Linked DNA regions of Homo sapiens. The protein of the gene in region 2 interacts with the protein of the main gene of each other region in a biochemical or structural test. Each region holds a gene or a part of one and is shown on either strand. Other genes may lie near its edges.

Evidence for each region. The genes of interacting proteins can lie anywhere in the genome.
Region 1: the proteins of INTU (region 2) and RALBP1 interact in a test that uses a peptide from one of them, tested with the Homo sapiens proteins (one large-scale study listed by IntAct).
Region 3: the proteins of INTU (region 2) and CYSLTR2 interact in a test that uses a peptide from one of them, tested with the Homo sapiens proteins (one large-scale study listed by IntAct).
Region 4: the proteins of INTU (region 2) and ARHGEF16 interact in a test that uses a peptide from one of them, tested with the Homo sapiens proteins (one large-scale study listed by IntAct).

What each region holds. Positions count from the first base shown.
Region 1 is NC_000018.10:9,520,513-9,524,012, forward strand, and holds part of RALBP1 (ralA-binding protein 1), read left to right. Parts: intron 1-1,647; coding exon 1,648-1,997; intron 1,998-3,500. UniProt on the Homo sapiens protein: Multifunctional protein that functions as a downstream effector of RALA and RALB. As a GTPase-activating protein/GAP can inactivate CDC42 and RAC1 by stimulating their GTPase activity.
Region 2 is NC_000004.12:127,644,665-127,649,956, forward strand, and holds part of INTU (protein inturned), read left to right. Parts: intron 1-5,292. UniProt on the Homo sapiens protein: Plays a key role in ciliogenesis and embryonic development.
Region 3 is NC_000013.11:48,708,828-48,711,726, reverse strand, and holds the end of CYSLTR2 (cysteinyl leukotriene receptor 2), read right to left. Parts: 3' UTR 501-2,899; downstream 1-500. UniProt on the Homo sapiens protein: Receptor for cysteinyl leukotrienes. The response is mediated via a G-protein that activates a phosphatidylinositol-calcium second messenger system.
Region 4 is NC_000001.11:3,468,165-3,471,664, forward strand, and holds part of ARHGEF16 (rho guanine nucleotide exchange factor 16), read left to right. Parts: intron 1-715; coding exon 716-772; intron 773-1,268; coding exon 1,269-1,429; intron 1,430-1,835; coding exon of another isoform or gene 1,836-1,917; intron 1,918-3,500. UniProt on the Homo sapiens protein: Guanyl-nucleotide exchange factor of the RHOG GTPase stimulating the exchange of RHOG-associated GDP for GTP. May play a role in chemotactic cell migration by mediating the activation of RAC1 by EPHA2.

The sequences.
Region 1 (3,500 bases), on a different chromosome or scaffold from region 2:
AATCTTATGTAATGTTTGCAAATCATTTGCTTTAGTTTCCTTTTGTTCAATAAGCAAAACGATTTTAGAAACCCATACTTTATTTTTTTTGTTCCAGCTCTGTTCAGATTAAGGTTATACTTAAAATAATCCAAACTTTAAAATAGAAATTAGATGGGGATGATTTAATGGAGAATAATTTTCAAAGTGTTTGTTTGGGTAGCTAATTCACCCTTTGCAATTACAGTACAATATTTACACATAAAAAAGTAATTTACCCACAACTTTTTGGAACATACTTAGGTACACCAAGCCACATTTTTTTGTGGTCAGTCTTGTGACTTGTTAGAAAAAGCAGCTGGCTGCCTGTGTAGAGCCAGACTTACACTTGGATTGTAGTTTAATTTTTGTCTTTTTACCTTTTTTTTTATTTTTTTGAGACAGAGTTTCACTTTTCACCCAGGCTGGAATACAGTAGTGTGACCTCGGCTCACTGCAACCTCCACCTCCTGGGTTCAAGCGATTCTCCTGCCTCAGCCTCCTGAGTAGCTGGGAGTACAGGCACCCGCCACAATGCCCAGCTAATTTTTGTATTTTTAGTAGAGACAGGGTTTCACCATGTTGGCCAGGCTGGTCTTGAACTCCCTACCTCAGGTGATCCACCTACCTCGGCCTCCCAAAGTACTGGGATTACAGGTGTGCGCCACTGTGTAATGTTTTTACATTAAAAACAAATTCCTGAATTAATGGGCATATTTGCTTAATATATCCATGGTTGCTTTGACTTCTGACTGTTGAGCTTTTCAATTATCATTTAACTTTTGGTTAAATTCACTTTTGAAGTTAGTTTTTTGGGTTTGTTTTTTGTTTTTTGTTTTTAGATGGAGTCTTGCTCTGTCACCCAAGCTGAAGTGCAGTGGTGTGATCTCGGCTCACTGCAACCTCTGCCTCCCAGGTTCAAGTGATTCTCCTGCCTCAGCCTCCCAAGTAGCTGGGATTACAGGCGCACACCACCACGCCTGGCTAATTTTTGTATTTTTAGTAGAGACAGGTTTTTGCCATGTTAGCCAGGCTGGTGTTGGACTCCTGACCTCAAATAATCCTCCTGCCTTGGCCTCCCAAAGTGCTGGGATTACAGGTGTGATCCATGGTGCCTGGCCTGTTTTTAATTATTTTTTTTATTTTTTGAGACAGTGTCTTACTCTGTTGCCCAGGCTGGAGTCCAGTGGTGCAATTATGGCTCACTGCAGACTCAACCTCCCAGGATCAAGTGATCCTCCCAACTCAGCCTCCCAAAGAACTTGGACCACAGGCGCACGCCACCATGCCCAGCTAATTTTTGTATTTTTTGTAGAGATAGGTTTTGACCATGTTGTCCAGCTAGTCTCGAATTCCTGGGCTCAAGCTATCTGCCCGCCTCAGCCTTCCAAAGTGCTGGGATTATGGGTGTGAGCCACTGCGCCCAGCCAAGTGTAGTCTTACATGTTAGTGTTTACAGAGGAACTGTACGACCTTTGTGCAGATAAATATTTCATAACAAGAGGTTCGTTATTGGTCAGGTTGCTGTTCTCATCTCCTTAGCAAGGGTGGGGATAATGGTAAAGAAAACTTGTGTGTTTGATTTTCTTTTCTCAGTATCTTCTCTCTTCTGAATTTGAATGTTTTAAGGAATTAAATCAAAGGTGGATGAGCTAAAAGCAGCCTATGACCGGGAGGAGTCTACAAACTTGGAAGACTATGAGCCTAACACTGTAGCCAGTTTGCTGAAGCAGTATTTGCGAGACCTTCCAGAGAATTTGCTTACCAAAGAGCTTATGCCCAGATTTGAAGAGGCTTGTGGGAGGACCACGGAGACTGAGAAAGTGCAGGAATTCCAGCGTTTACTCAAAGAACTGCCAGAATGTAACTATCTTCTGATTTCTTGGCTCATTGTGCACATGGACCATGTCATTGCAAAGGAACTGGAAACAAAAATGAATATACAGAACATTTCTATAGTGCTCAGCCCAACTGTGCAGGTACATGGTCTTCTCTACACATATACCCTCTGGTACTGACATTGGGGAACTGGGGTAATTTTCTATTGCTGAGTCACATGTAAAGCAGTGAACTTGAGGAGATAGGTAATGGATTAGCTTGAATACGGGTCTTTTCCTTTCATAATTTGGACAGTGTCAATGTATAAGATAACATACTTGCCCTTTAGCTTGTAGTGATGTAATTTGAATGCGGTACAGTCTTTGATGTGGGTTTATAAACAAGACCTGATGACAAGGATCCTTCATTAGGGGAGGAGGAGCCCATGGCATCTACAGTTATAGAGTTCGTGTGTAGAATTTTAGAGATCCCAGTTATTTAATCAATAGCATTATTGCTTCGTTAGATCACAGACACACATCAAACTCAGGCACAAAGGGACCTGTCATTAATTGTTTGGTCAAAGATTTAGCCTGAGGATTTCATTCATAAGGATGGATCCTAGAGAGACATGTTATAGGCTCTGAATCTGAAAAGGAACTTCAGGGAATTGGGTAGTGTGTTAATTGGTATCTTTTTACGACATACATACTTGGCTTTCCTTTATTGCTGCTCAGTTGGTGCTGTCATAGAGTATATGTTTTCTTTTAATTGCAGTTAATGATATTTTACTCAGGCCAATAAAAAGGGAGATGATAGGTTATATTTATTATCTTAAGCCCTCTTTTTGGCCAGTATTCTGAGTCACCATAAATCACTGTCACTGTTATTAGAGAGTGTTTTCATTTACTAAAGAGCGTTTCAGTCAGGCGCGGTGGCTCACACCTTTAATGCGAGCACTTTAGGAGGCTGTGGCAGGAGGATAGCGAGAGGCCAGGAGTTCAGCCTAGGCAACATAGCAAGACCCTGTCTCTACATAAAAATTAAAAATTAGCTGGGTGTGGTAGCATGTATGTGTAGTCCCAGTTACTTCGGAGGCTGAGGTAGGAGGATTGCTTGAGCCCAGCAGTGAGCTATGATCATGCCACTGTACTCCTCTCTGGGTGACAGAGCAAGATTTTATCTCTAAAAAATAAAGATTCTTCTGTTACTCATTGATTACGCTTTGAAAGCAAAATGTTTCTCAGATTTTAGTTTGATCATTAGGATTTCAGGATCTGGTAAATATTACATTGATACTTAATATTACTATAATATAATAGAGATGGTTGTATCATAGAAGAGTCAAGTGTGTTGTAAGAGTAAGTTTTAGGTAGGAAATAATTTCTTGTAGTAGCTTTTCAGCCAACCTAATGCCCTGGCCTCCTAGCATATGAACATCCATACTTAAATGCTGGCTGTGTCCAGGTATTTGTTTCTGGAGTGAGGGCTTTCAACCTCAACCCAGCTTTACTACTGTGGTGCTCCCACTTCCCTCATGGTCCTCATTCATTCCATTGCGTCTGTTAAAATATGTCAAAGTAAGTTGAAAATAAAGAATATAAGATGTTTTAGCCGGGCATGGTGGCTCACGCCTGTAATCGCAGCACTTTGGGAGGCTGAGG
Region 2 (5,292 bases):
TGCTGATAAATTTTAAGCTGTTAGATACAATGTTTGAGTTAGTAGCAATCTAATTACTTAAAGATAAATGAGTAAAATTTGAGGATATATTATTACTAAAATTTAAAAGTAATAACAGTTCTAAAAGCTGACAGTCTTTTAAGTTTATCTAGCATAAGAGGTTTAAATGAAGAACATTTACAGATAAATTTACAAATATTTCCAACTTTAAATCTGAATTTCATTTGTTTGTTCACTGATTTGACAGTTTGTTTTTTTAGCATCTGCTAAGTGCCAGGAATACAAAGATTACTTTACTGATCCAATTATTTCTTGAAAGGAGCTATGTTTTAGTGGAAGAGACGGGTTACAGATAGGCAGGCAGCTCCTCACTGTCTGATAAGTGTCATCATAGGGGTTTACAAGGAGGATCATATGGAATCTTGTAAGAAGGGCATCTGTGGCAAAGTATGTGTTCCAGAATGATCTCAACAGGATCTGCACACTTTCTTAAAATGTAGTGTTGATACTCCTCCCATGGAGAGTTGTGCTCTGTGTCATTGAATCTGGGTGGGCCGGTGACTACAGCTTAATTGGTGCCATGTGACTTAAGAGGTTGGATCATAAAAGGTGATGCAGCTTCTGCCTGGTTATTTTGGGGATACTTGCCCTTAGAACCCAGTCACCATTGTGTGAAGAGGTCAAGACACCAGTGATCCAGCTGATAGCCCCAACTGAAGCCCTCGCCACCAGATGTGAGTGAGAAGCCTTTAAGATGACTCCAGCCCCAACCACCATCTGCCTGTAACTGCATGAGGAATCCCAAGTGAGAACCACAGCTGACCCCAGTTAACCCCAGAACCAGGAGAGATGATAAATTATTGTTGTTGTTATTTTTTTATTTTTTATTTTATTTATTTATTTATTTATTTTTGAGATGGAGTTTTGCTGTTGTCACTCAGGCTAGAGTGCAATGGCACCATCTTGGCTCACTTCAACCTCTACCTCCCGGGTTCAAGCGATTCTTCTGCCTCAGCCTCCTGAGTAGTTGGGATTACTGGCACCCACCACCATGCCTGACTAATTTTTTTGTATTTTTTAGTAGAGATGGAGTTTCACCATGTTGGTCAGGCTGGTCTTGAACTCCTGACCTCAGGTGATCCACCCGCCTCAGCCTCACAAAGTGCTGGGATTACAGGCGTGAGCCACCGTGCCTGGCCAACTGTTGTTGTTTTAAGCCTCAGAATTATTTGGATAGGCCTGGCGTGGTGGCTAACACTTGTAATCCCAGCACTTTGGGAGGCCAAGGTGGGCAGATCACTTGAGGCCAGGAGTTTGAGACCAGCCTGGCCAACATGGCAAGACCCCGTGTCTACTAAAAAATACAAAACTTAGCTGGGCCTTGTGGTGCATGCCTGTAATCTCAGCTGCTGGGGAGGCTGGGGCACGAGAATCACTTGAACCTGGGAGGCAGAGGTTGCAATGAGCCAAGATTGTACCACCGCACTCCAGCCTGGGGGAACACAGTGAGACTCTGTCTCAAAAAAAAAAAAAAAAATTGTTTGGATGACTTATTATGCAACAATAGATGACTGGAACAGGGGCTAATACATACTTACATTCTCTTGGGTCCTCTACTTTCCTTCTTGTGAAATGATAGGATAGAACTAAATATCTCTATGGTTTGTTCTTTTAGTTCTGTAAAAGGAGCCAGAATTCATTTAACGTGCCCCCCTTTCAGTGGTGTTTCCTGTGAGTTGGTAGTTAGATCTTGAGGCCTATCAAACATATTTTATAGGTGGTCTGTGTGCTTCCATCAGGAACAACATATTATCTGCTGTTTTTCTTTTTGTGATATTAACAGTTATTGATGATCATTGCCTAAATCCATTAATTCATTAAGGGACTGCAAAATGGTGATATTCCAATTCTGTCAGTCTTTCTCAATATTTCAGTTAGACTACTTTCATAAAAAGAAGCTCCCCCTCACCTCTGGTAACCTTGACATATGGTTTAGACAGGAAAGGCAGGATAAATGTCTGATTTTTCTTCATTTAACAGTTTTCACAAAAGCAAGTTGGTACCATTATTCAAGGACTTCAGAATGGTAGGTTGGGAGGGGCCTTAATTCTCTCTAGTTTGGTGCCCACATATTATAGACGAGGGGTTGAGATTGAAACTCAAAAAAAAATAACAAAATTTATTGTTAGTAAATGCATTGGCAGAAAACATTGAGTTTTGAATGTATAAAATGGCAGTATAGTAACTGCTTTTCAAAAACCAGATTCCCTTTCCCTGAAGTCAAATTTGGCTTAATTAAAAGGATCAATTTCAATTCACAATTTGATCTCATTTTTCTGTCCCATACATATGTGCCACTCCTTCTATCCATAAATCCCCACCTCTAACAAGCAAGCCTGATTTATTTTTTTCCTAACTGACCTCCAGATACACCTTGTGTGTCCATCTTTGCTTTTTAGCATTCGTGATTCCTTTTTTGGTGCATCACAAAGATTGCTTTGTATTACTAGGCTAGTGCATTCATCTTCTATTGCTGCCGTGACAAATTACCACAAACTTAGTGGTTTAAAACAATACAGATTTATCATCTTGCAATAATGTAAGCCAGAAATCTAAAATGGGTCTTCTTGTATGAAAATCAAGGTGTCCACAGGGCTACATTCCTTTTGGAGGCTCCAGGGAAGAATCCCATTCCTTGGCCAGCTTTCAGAGGCTACCTGCATTCTTTGGCTTGTGGTCCTGTCCTCCATCATCAAAGCCAGCAGCATAGCATCTTCCAGTCTCTCTCATGCTGACCCTGACACTTTTGCCTTCCTCCTATAAAGACCTTTATCTTTACCTGACGATCATTCGGATAATCCAGGACAGTCTTCCAATCTTTTAAGTTAATTACAACTGCAAAGTCCTTCTTGCTGTGTAAGGTAGCATATTCAGAGATTTCAGGGATTGAAACATAGACATCTTTGGGGGGCAATTATGCTGCCTACCTCAGTGGGGGGTTTTTTGGTAAAATATGAGTTTTTTTTCTTTTTGTGATAGTAATAATATACGTTCATTGTAGACAATTTAGAAAATACAATTAAGCAAAAAAGAAAAATTCCATATACCCAAAGACAACATTTTGTTATATATCCTCCCTTTTCCTACATTTATATACAATAATCTTTTGTCAAAAATAATTTAAGTTGTATATTCATTTTATATATAGTATAAACACAGCAGTAAACAAACTTTTGCATATATATTTTCATAGCCCTTGGTGCCTTATGTAGTAGCCCTTTAGTACACATGTTGTTTGATGTTAAGTATATACTGAGAAATTGATGGCTTTTCTCACATAATTTAACTTTACATTGAGGAACTGTGATAAACTGATCTCTTTTTAAAATATTTTATTTGGTTCTTAAATATATCTCTTAATAAAAATTTTCTCATATTTCTACCCAGGCCATTTCTTATTTAACAATGCAAATCAATCATATAATTCATTCCCTTTTAGCCTTTGAAATGGGACAGATCATATTAATGACTCCCGTGTACTTATGGAGAAAGACCTTTCCTTGGGTTTAGGATGTCCACTGCAAAGGTGCGATGTCCGGGAAGCCAGCCATCTCTGAGTCACTTCACAGAAGTGTTCAGAAACACTAGAGGAAAACAAATGTCTGGGAGAATGAGAAGTGGATATAATATTTATTTCATAGAATGGGAAAATTTTCTACTAAACATTTAAAAATATTGGGTATACTACACTTGCTTTCAGAATTTATTTTCATATATTTTTATGATGAACCATCTCCTCTTTTTAGAGGTTTGTTAGACTTGATAATTTTAGATAATACTCCCTATAACACTCAGCTACAGGAATGTATTCATTAGGATTTGGAGAAAAAAGTCATTTGGCACATCATCCAATGGAGTTTTAGTTTAAAGTAACAAATTTAAAATGTTTTTACTATTTCTGTGCCCTGAGGATAACAAACTATAGACAACAGAACTAATCATTAGGATAGTCCAAAAGTGGTTTCATTTTACATTGACACAGCTATACTGTGTCCATCATTCCTTTATTTTCTTTTAATCACTACAGCTATAAGTAATTTGATATAGTACTTTTGTTTAATCTCTTATATAGGAGAAATTAAACAGGCATCTTGTTGTGTTTTTTTTTTTCCAAGTGGACTTCAAGTTGAAAGTTTATTTTGGTCTGCAAGTTCTTACTTTTAAGAAAAGTTTGTCCAAAGTGCTGTAATAGTTAACCATCATAATGACTTGGTGCCCATGCTTGCAAAACTCCCATCTGAGTTGTATCTCTTGAGCATCTAAACCTAGTTCAAGCCTTCACAGTTGGCCTAAGAAAGTACTCCTGCTTACTCTGCACTTAACCCCATTCTCATTCAATAGAGTATCAAGGAGAGGAAGGAAAAAAAGGAGGAATAGCAGTACCTACAGTGGCAACATTTTCATCTGTTTGCCAACCCTACAGATGGCCAAGTGATGCCTAATAATGGGTTGCCTTAAAGGAAAGGAACTCTGAACTTAGGGAACACCAATCTTTTATAAAGAACAGTTATTAATAATAAGATATTGAGCACAGCATTGACCTTATTATACCATTCAGTAAACAAGCTTGACCTTTGCTCAGGATGGAAACATATCTCTGTTGTCCAAGGCTGTTCATTACACGAACGTCTTTGAAAAGACAGTCTAGAACAAAGACTCTCAATGCCTCGGCTTGTAAGATGTACAGAAACATGAGACTCATGAAGAATTATCTACCAACACGATTCTACATATACAGGTTGAGTACTCCTTCTTCAAAATACCTGGGACCAGAAGTGCTTCCAATTTTTTTTTTTTTAATATTGCATTATACTTACCTGTTGAGCATCCCAAATCTGACAATCCTAAATCCAAAATGCTCCAATGAGCATTTCCTTTGAGGGTCACGTTGGTGCTCAAAAAGTTTTGGATTTTGGAGGATTTTGGATTTTCAATTTTTGGATTTGGGATACTTAGCCTGTATACATGTTTATTATCCATCTTCCCCAAAGAATATTAAGCTCCCTGAGAGTAGAGATTTTGTCTTTGTTCAATTCTTTGTCTCTAGTGCTTAGAAGAGTGCCTGGCACACATTAAGTGCTCAGTAAATATTTCTTAAATGAATGGATGAATATGAATTATTTCATCAATTTCCTAATAATATATTTAGGAATGATGAGAAAAATAACTTTGGTATGTCTATATTTCTATTAATATAGCTCACTGGTATTTTGATAGTATCTTTAATTATGT
Region 3 (2,899 bases), on a different chromosome or scaffold from region 2:
TCATCCTCATTCAGAGTAATCCATTCTTCATTAGTTTGCTTTAGAAACAAATAAGGAAGTGTGTAGTCTCAGGCTGCTTGCAGTCAGCTTGTTTCCATGAGAGGATTCACCCATGTGGCAGAGCCAACATCTGGGGAGGAAAGCCCACAGATGTCCTGGTTGAACAAGGCCTGAAGTCCAACTTCCCTCGGTATATTTCAGTTATATGAGATAATCAAATCCCTTTATTATGTAAGCCACTTGGGGTAGGGTTTTCTGTTACTTGCAACTAAAAATATCCCAAGTAACATATCAAAATCTCTCTAACCCCAGAAAGTGACTTTCCTCACCCCAAGAAAGGACTTGCCTCCCATGGCAGGACTAGATGGGCTTCTCTCAAGAACTGAAATACAACTCTGGTCCTTTCCTGCTTTCCTTTCTTCTGTCAATGTTCAGTTTCCATTTCTGATGGGCTTTCTTGTCTTTTTTTGTTTTTGTTTTAAAAAACAACTCAGAATTAGTTTGAATTTTAAAATTTAATTTTAACTTAATTTTTATTTTACTTCAGAAATACATATTCACAAGTTAGGCAATTACACAGTTCGTAAAATAAGTCCCCACCCTATCCTCCCACCCCAGCTTCTCCATAGAGGTAACCCCTGCCCATTCTTTCTTCTGCTTCTACCTGTATTTACCTCCTATTGCTAAATAATATGGTTGTACAGCTATTCATCATTTTCCAGATTTAGTTATTATGCATTTTCTGTGATAGAATATGGCAACCTAGGTCTCTTATACCTCTCCCACACACGTACACATCTTCTCCCTTCATTTCCTGAAAAAAAGGTTATATCACAGTATTTCACTCCAGCAGCACCCCCTTATCTGTGGGAGTTGCATTCCAAGACCCTGAATACGAATAGCACCAAACCCAAATAGTACCAAACCCGATTGCTGTCAATTGGAACACATTTCTGTTCATGTCTTCCACCCACAAATTTAATACCTTTTCATCTTAACTAAGTGTTTATCACACACCGTGGGGTGTAATAAATAATTTTTGCAGCTTGTGGTGCAACAGCAAAACTAGCACAAATTTCTTTTGCCTTCTTCACAATTTTACAGATGGATTTGTTCTTACTGTAGATCTTAGCAACTTCAGCATGTGTTTTTTTTCTTTCCTTATTAAGTCAAGAACTTTCACATTTTCTGTTAGAGGAAGCACTTTACAGCTTCTCTTTGGTGTATCTTATTTGCCAGCATCACTACTCTTATGCTTTGGGGACATTAGTAAGTAAAATAAGAGTGACTTTAACACAAGCACTGTTATACCACAACAGTTGATCTGAGCAACTGGATGATGACTAAGTGACTCATGGGTGGGTAGCATATACATTGTGGATCCACTGGAGAAATCTCACACCATCCCACTTTGCCCTGCCCAGAACATGGGTGGAGGGTGATAGTGCGAGATTTCAACATGCTACTCAAAACAGCACATGTTTTAAAACTTAAGAATTATTTCTGGAATTTTCCATTTAATATTTTCAGACTGGCTGGCTGTAACTGAACTGCAGAAAGCAAAACCACAGATAATGGGAGACTATTATATTCACATTATCCTCTATGTAAATATTATTCACAGCTGAGCCATGTAGTGTACTGTGGTTATATTTCCTCTCTAATACAAAAGTTTCTTTTCCTCTAGCACTTAAAAACTGTATTGCGTTTTTACTTGCTTATTTTTCTATGTATTTACGACTAGTTTATCTCAATCTCTGCAAGAGAAATCTAAATCCCTCTCAATGTGTATGAATCAATTAATTTCTTCTTTTTCTGGGAGACATCTCTCCTAGAGTCCTTTAAGAGTCCTGCTCCAACATGAATGACTTGCTTTCTAAGCCTGCTACACACCAACATCCTGGGAATTCTCTTCACTTTCTCCTGCGTTGGATTCCTTGTTTCCCAGCTACTGTGTTTTCCTCTATCTTGGTTTAATCTCTTATTTTGGAGGATCTTTTATACTCAAAAGGTCTCTATCTACTCTCACATTTATTTGTTGGTGCCTTTCATGTTACGGCCTTTCCCTCAAATGTATTGTGTTCATTGACTACTTTTCATAATTAAGAATGAGGCTCTGACAGGTTGACCAAATGCTGTGAGTGGAAGGGATTTGTTGCATTGTGGGCTTCATCGTCAGGTGAGTAATAGGGCAGACACGCAGCTTTTGTGTTGAAGGATCCTCAACTATTTGTATCTGTCAGCCTTTTTTTCAGATTATGCAGTTTCCCCATAGGAGGATCCTCCAGGGTCCTGTCTTGACAGGGTTTGAGTCTGTCTGTCATCATTCTGGTAGCTAAATAAGGAAAGGGTACTGGGATTTTTGTTTAGTATGATGACTGACTTAGTCCCTCCCTACTTTCAGAATGCCATATCACCTCCACCCTTTACTGTACTATGAGTCAACAACTCTGAAGAGAAACTTTTGGTTTTCTTGTGAGAGTGAGGAGGGGGAGGAAATTGGTAGGAAAGGACAGCTTTTATTCAGACTTTCAACCAATCTTCCTGGAAGTTTACAAGGGTAGTGGTGGGGAGAGCACCCAGCCAACACTTCTGCACAGAGATTTTTAAAACTCTTACTAGCTGTGTAAACTTAAACAAGCTTCTTAATTTCTCTAAGCTTCAATTTCTTCAGCTGTAAAATGGAACTCAGAGCTTTGGTGTGAATGTCAAATGGGATCAACAAATGTAAAGTGCCTGGCATAATCTGCCCTGCAGGGAGACTGCATTCAATTGTTGTCAGTACAATGGTCATGGTGATAGTAGTTGGTAGTATCCTTAGCCTTGTTTCAGTGGACAGAAAGGAACCTCTCACACTATCTAGTGTTTTTCTACACTATCTCAAAAGGGAAGGCAGCAT
Region 4 (3,500 bases), on a different chromosome or scaffold from region 2:
TACCGCACCCTGGTAACTGCCAGAGTTTCCGACCCTGCATGGGAAGGAGGCACTGGTTTGGGGAATGGGGGACTCACCCTTGGCCCAGGCGCTGTTGGCGGCCTTTCTGCCCAGCCCAGTGAGGAGCAGAGCACGAATCAGGGTGGCCTGAGTCCTGCAGAGGGGACCCCTGGGCGGTGTGGCAGCCCTCCTGGTCCTGACGTGCTCTACCAATCGAGCCACACTCCCGCCAAGGCGACCCGCCAGCTGTGGGCCCCGAGGAGGAGGGAGCCCGGGCGGAAACAGCGTCACCCATAGCTTCCAGGCAGGGCACTGACTCGCCTCGCCCAGGTGGGGTCTGAGTCACAGTCCTGCCCTCCACACTCCCTCCCTGGGTGGGCTCCGCACCTCTCCATCTGCCGGGAAGATCTGTGGGACAAGATCCCCCCCCGCCCTCTGGCCTCTCCCTCTGGATGCCCCATGCTCTTTCTGGGCTGCTTTGGGGCTCTGGCGGCTGGGGGGAGCGGGGGGCTGACCCAAGGCGGGTTACACAGAGAGGAAGGTGACGGGGATAGGCCCTCGGCAGGACAGGCCTACTCCAGGATCGGACCTACCTGAGCCCTGTGGGGTGGCTGTCCATGTTGGCCCTGGTCCATCAGGAGGAGGAAAGAAGGGAGACTTTGGCCCAGGCTTCTAGGACGTGTGACCGAGAGCTCCTGGGCCTGTGTCCCCCCAGGTGGTGGAATTGGGCATCCTGGACCAGCTCTCCACTGAGGAGCGGAAAAGGCAGGAGGTAAAAGGGCCCTGGGCGGGAGGGCTGTCCCCCATGGCCTGGGCCATGCAACACCCGGGGAGGGGCAGCAGCCACGGTGGCACCACCCAGCCATCCCTCTGCGGCCACCTCCAGTGCCAGGCCCTGTCACGCTGACCAGCGCCTCACACAGCCCCGGGCTGTGCTTCCACCTGCGCCAGGCCCTGACGGAGCCCCTTCACGTCACCGGGTGAATCCTCGGAGTCCAGGGGCTGCCATCACCCCCTTCTCTGACAAGGACGGGGGTCGTTGCCCAGCTTCAGCCGGCTCATAAGGCACCCAGCCAGGGGCATCCAGGGACGTCGGGCTGGCATCTCCAAGCTGGCCATTCTGACAGCCCCATCCAGGGGTGTGTCTGGGGTTCCTGTCCCCACCTGCCCCTGCCACCCGGGTCACGTCCTCCTGTTCCAAGCATTGGTCACCGAGGCACGCCCGTGTCCAGCGTCACTGTGGGGCTCACCTAGGCCCCTCTCCACAGGCCATGTTCGAGATCCTCACGTCGGAGTTCTCCTACCAGCACAGCCTGAGCATCCTGGTGGAGGAGTTCCTGCAGTCCAAGGAGCTGCGGGCGACCGTGACCCAGATGGAGCACCACCACCTCTTCTCCAACATCCTGGATGTCCTGGGTGCCAGTCAGAGGTGAGGCCACGCCACAGCCTTCCACACAGGGTCCTCTGCCAGGAAGGTGCCTCCCCCCGTGGGCACCGCACTGTCATCAGCAGGCCCCTGGGAGCCTGCGCTGCACCTTGATGTGGATGGTTTAGAGCAGCTGCTGGCTCCCGCGGAGTGTGATGACCTCTGAGGGTCCTTGAGGCCACCAAGAGCTGGCCCCAGGGCCGGGCTAAGCACTGGGGCTGTGGCATCCTGGTCGTTCTTAAGACGTGGAGCACTTCCCAGGGGTACAACCCTGCCCCACTGCCAAGCACCACCCCACCAGGACGTCCAGGCACAGAGGGCTGCATGATCCAGGCAGTGGTGGCCACAAGCTGCTCACCTGTAGGCAGGAAGCCTCGAGTTGCAGCTCTGGGTCATGTTCCACCCAAAGGTGTCTGGTGGCTGGACCTGAGCTCTGGTTGCAGGGCCTGGAGGTAGAGAGGCTGGACATGCAGCTGCAGCCATGCACGGGGGTATGTGCGTGGGGTGGGGTGGGGTGTGTGTGCGTGGGTGTGTGTGTGGGGTGGGGTGTCTGTGCATGGCTGTGTGTGCATGGTCAGTGGTGTGTGTGAGTGGGCTGGCCCCGAGGCCTGGAGGGTGGCTCGGGAGCATCCAGCACCCTGGTGTGTATGCATGGGTGTGTGGGGGCAGGGGTGTGTATGCATGGGCAAGGGTGTGTATGCATGGGCAGGGGTGTCTGCACGGGTGTGTCTGCACGGGTGTGTGTGGACAGGGTTGTGTGTGCGTGGGCAGGTATGTGTGTGTGTAGGTGTGCATGGGTTTGTGTGCCTGGGCAGCAGTGTGTGTGCATGGGTGTGGGGCAGGGGTGTGTATGCATGGTTGTGTGTGCGCGGGTGTGTGCATGGATGTGTGTGCATGGACGGGTGTGTGCACAGGCAGGGATGTGTGTGCGTGGGCAGGGGTGTGTATGCGTGGTCAGGGTTATGTGTGAGTGGGTAGGGGTGTGTGTGAGTGGCTGTGTTTTCGGTCAGGTGTGTGTGAGTGGGTGTGTGTGCGTGGGCAGGGATGTCTGTGTATCTGCGTGGTCAGGGATGTATGTGAGTAGGTGTGTGTGCGTGGGCAAGGGTGTCTGTGCATGGCTGTGTGTGCGTGGTCAGGGGTGTGTGTGAGTGGGCTGGCCCCAAGGCCCGGAGGGTGGCTCGGGAGCATCCGGCACCCTGGTGTGTATGCATGGGTGTATGTGCATGGATGTGTGTGTGGGCAGGGGTGTGTGTGCGTGGACAGGTGTGTGTGCGTGGGCAGGGGTGTATGTGCGTGGGTGTGTGTGCCTGGCCAGGGGTATGTGTGTGGGCAGGGGTGTGTGTGCATGGGCAGGGGTGTGCGTGGGTGTGTGTGCCTGGCCAGGGGTGTGTGTGCGTGGGCAGGGGTGTGCGTGGGTGTGTGTACCTGGCCAGGGGTGTGTGTGCGTGGGCAGGGATGTGTGTGTGCATGGACAGGTATGTGTGCATGGGCAGGGGTGTGTGTGCGTGGGTGTGTGTGCCTGGGCAGGGGTGTGTGTGCGTGGGTGTGTGTGCCTGGGCAGGGGTATGTGTGGTCTCGACCCTGTGCTGCTCCCTATATGCAGGAGGACCCCGGAGCATCGAGTCTCCTGAGCCTCAGCCTCAATGCTAACCTGAGGGGCGGTGCCTCTGGTCCCCTCGTGGGCTTGGGTGGCGCTGGGAGATGATTAGGGGCCTGTAGTGCCTGGCACAGGGCTGCCCCAACAGTGGTGGTTGCTGGCGCATTCTTATATCAGCCCCGCCCCTGGCGAGTCCCACCCATCTGCTGCCTGTGGGGTGCCCTTGCGGAACTTTGGGGCCCTGAGGGTGGGCAGGGAGCCGCCTTGTCCCTGGAGACAGGGGCTTCCTGTAGAGCTCCAGGGACCAGCTATGGGAAACTCCCAACCTCTGACTCAGCATGGGATGGGGCTGGGGGAGGGGGAGGGGTCTGGGATAGCGGCTGCCCCTCCCCCAGCTCTGCCCCCAGCCAGGCAGGCTTTGTGTTCTCTGAGCTCTGTGTCCTCCGGTCCCCTCTGCCTCAGGCAGCTGCATGTTTG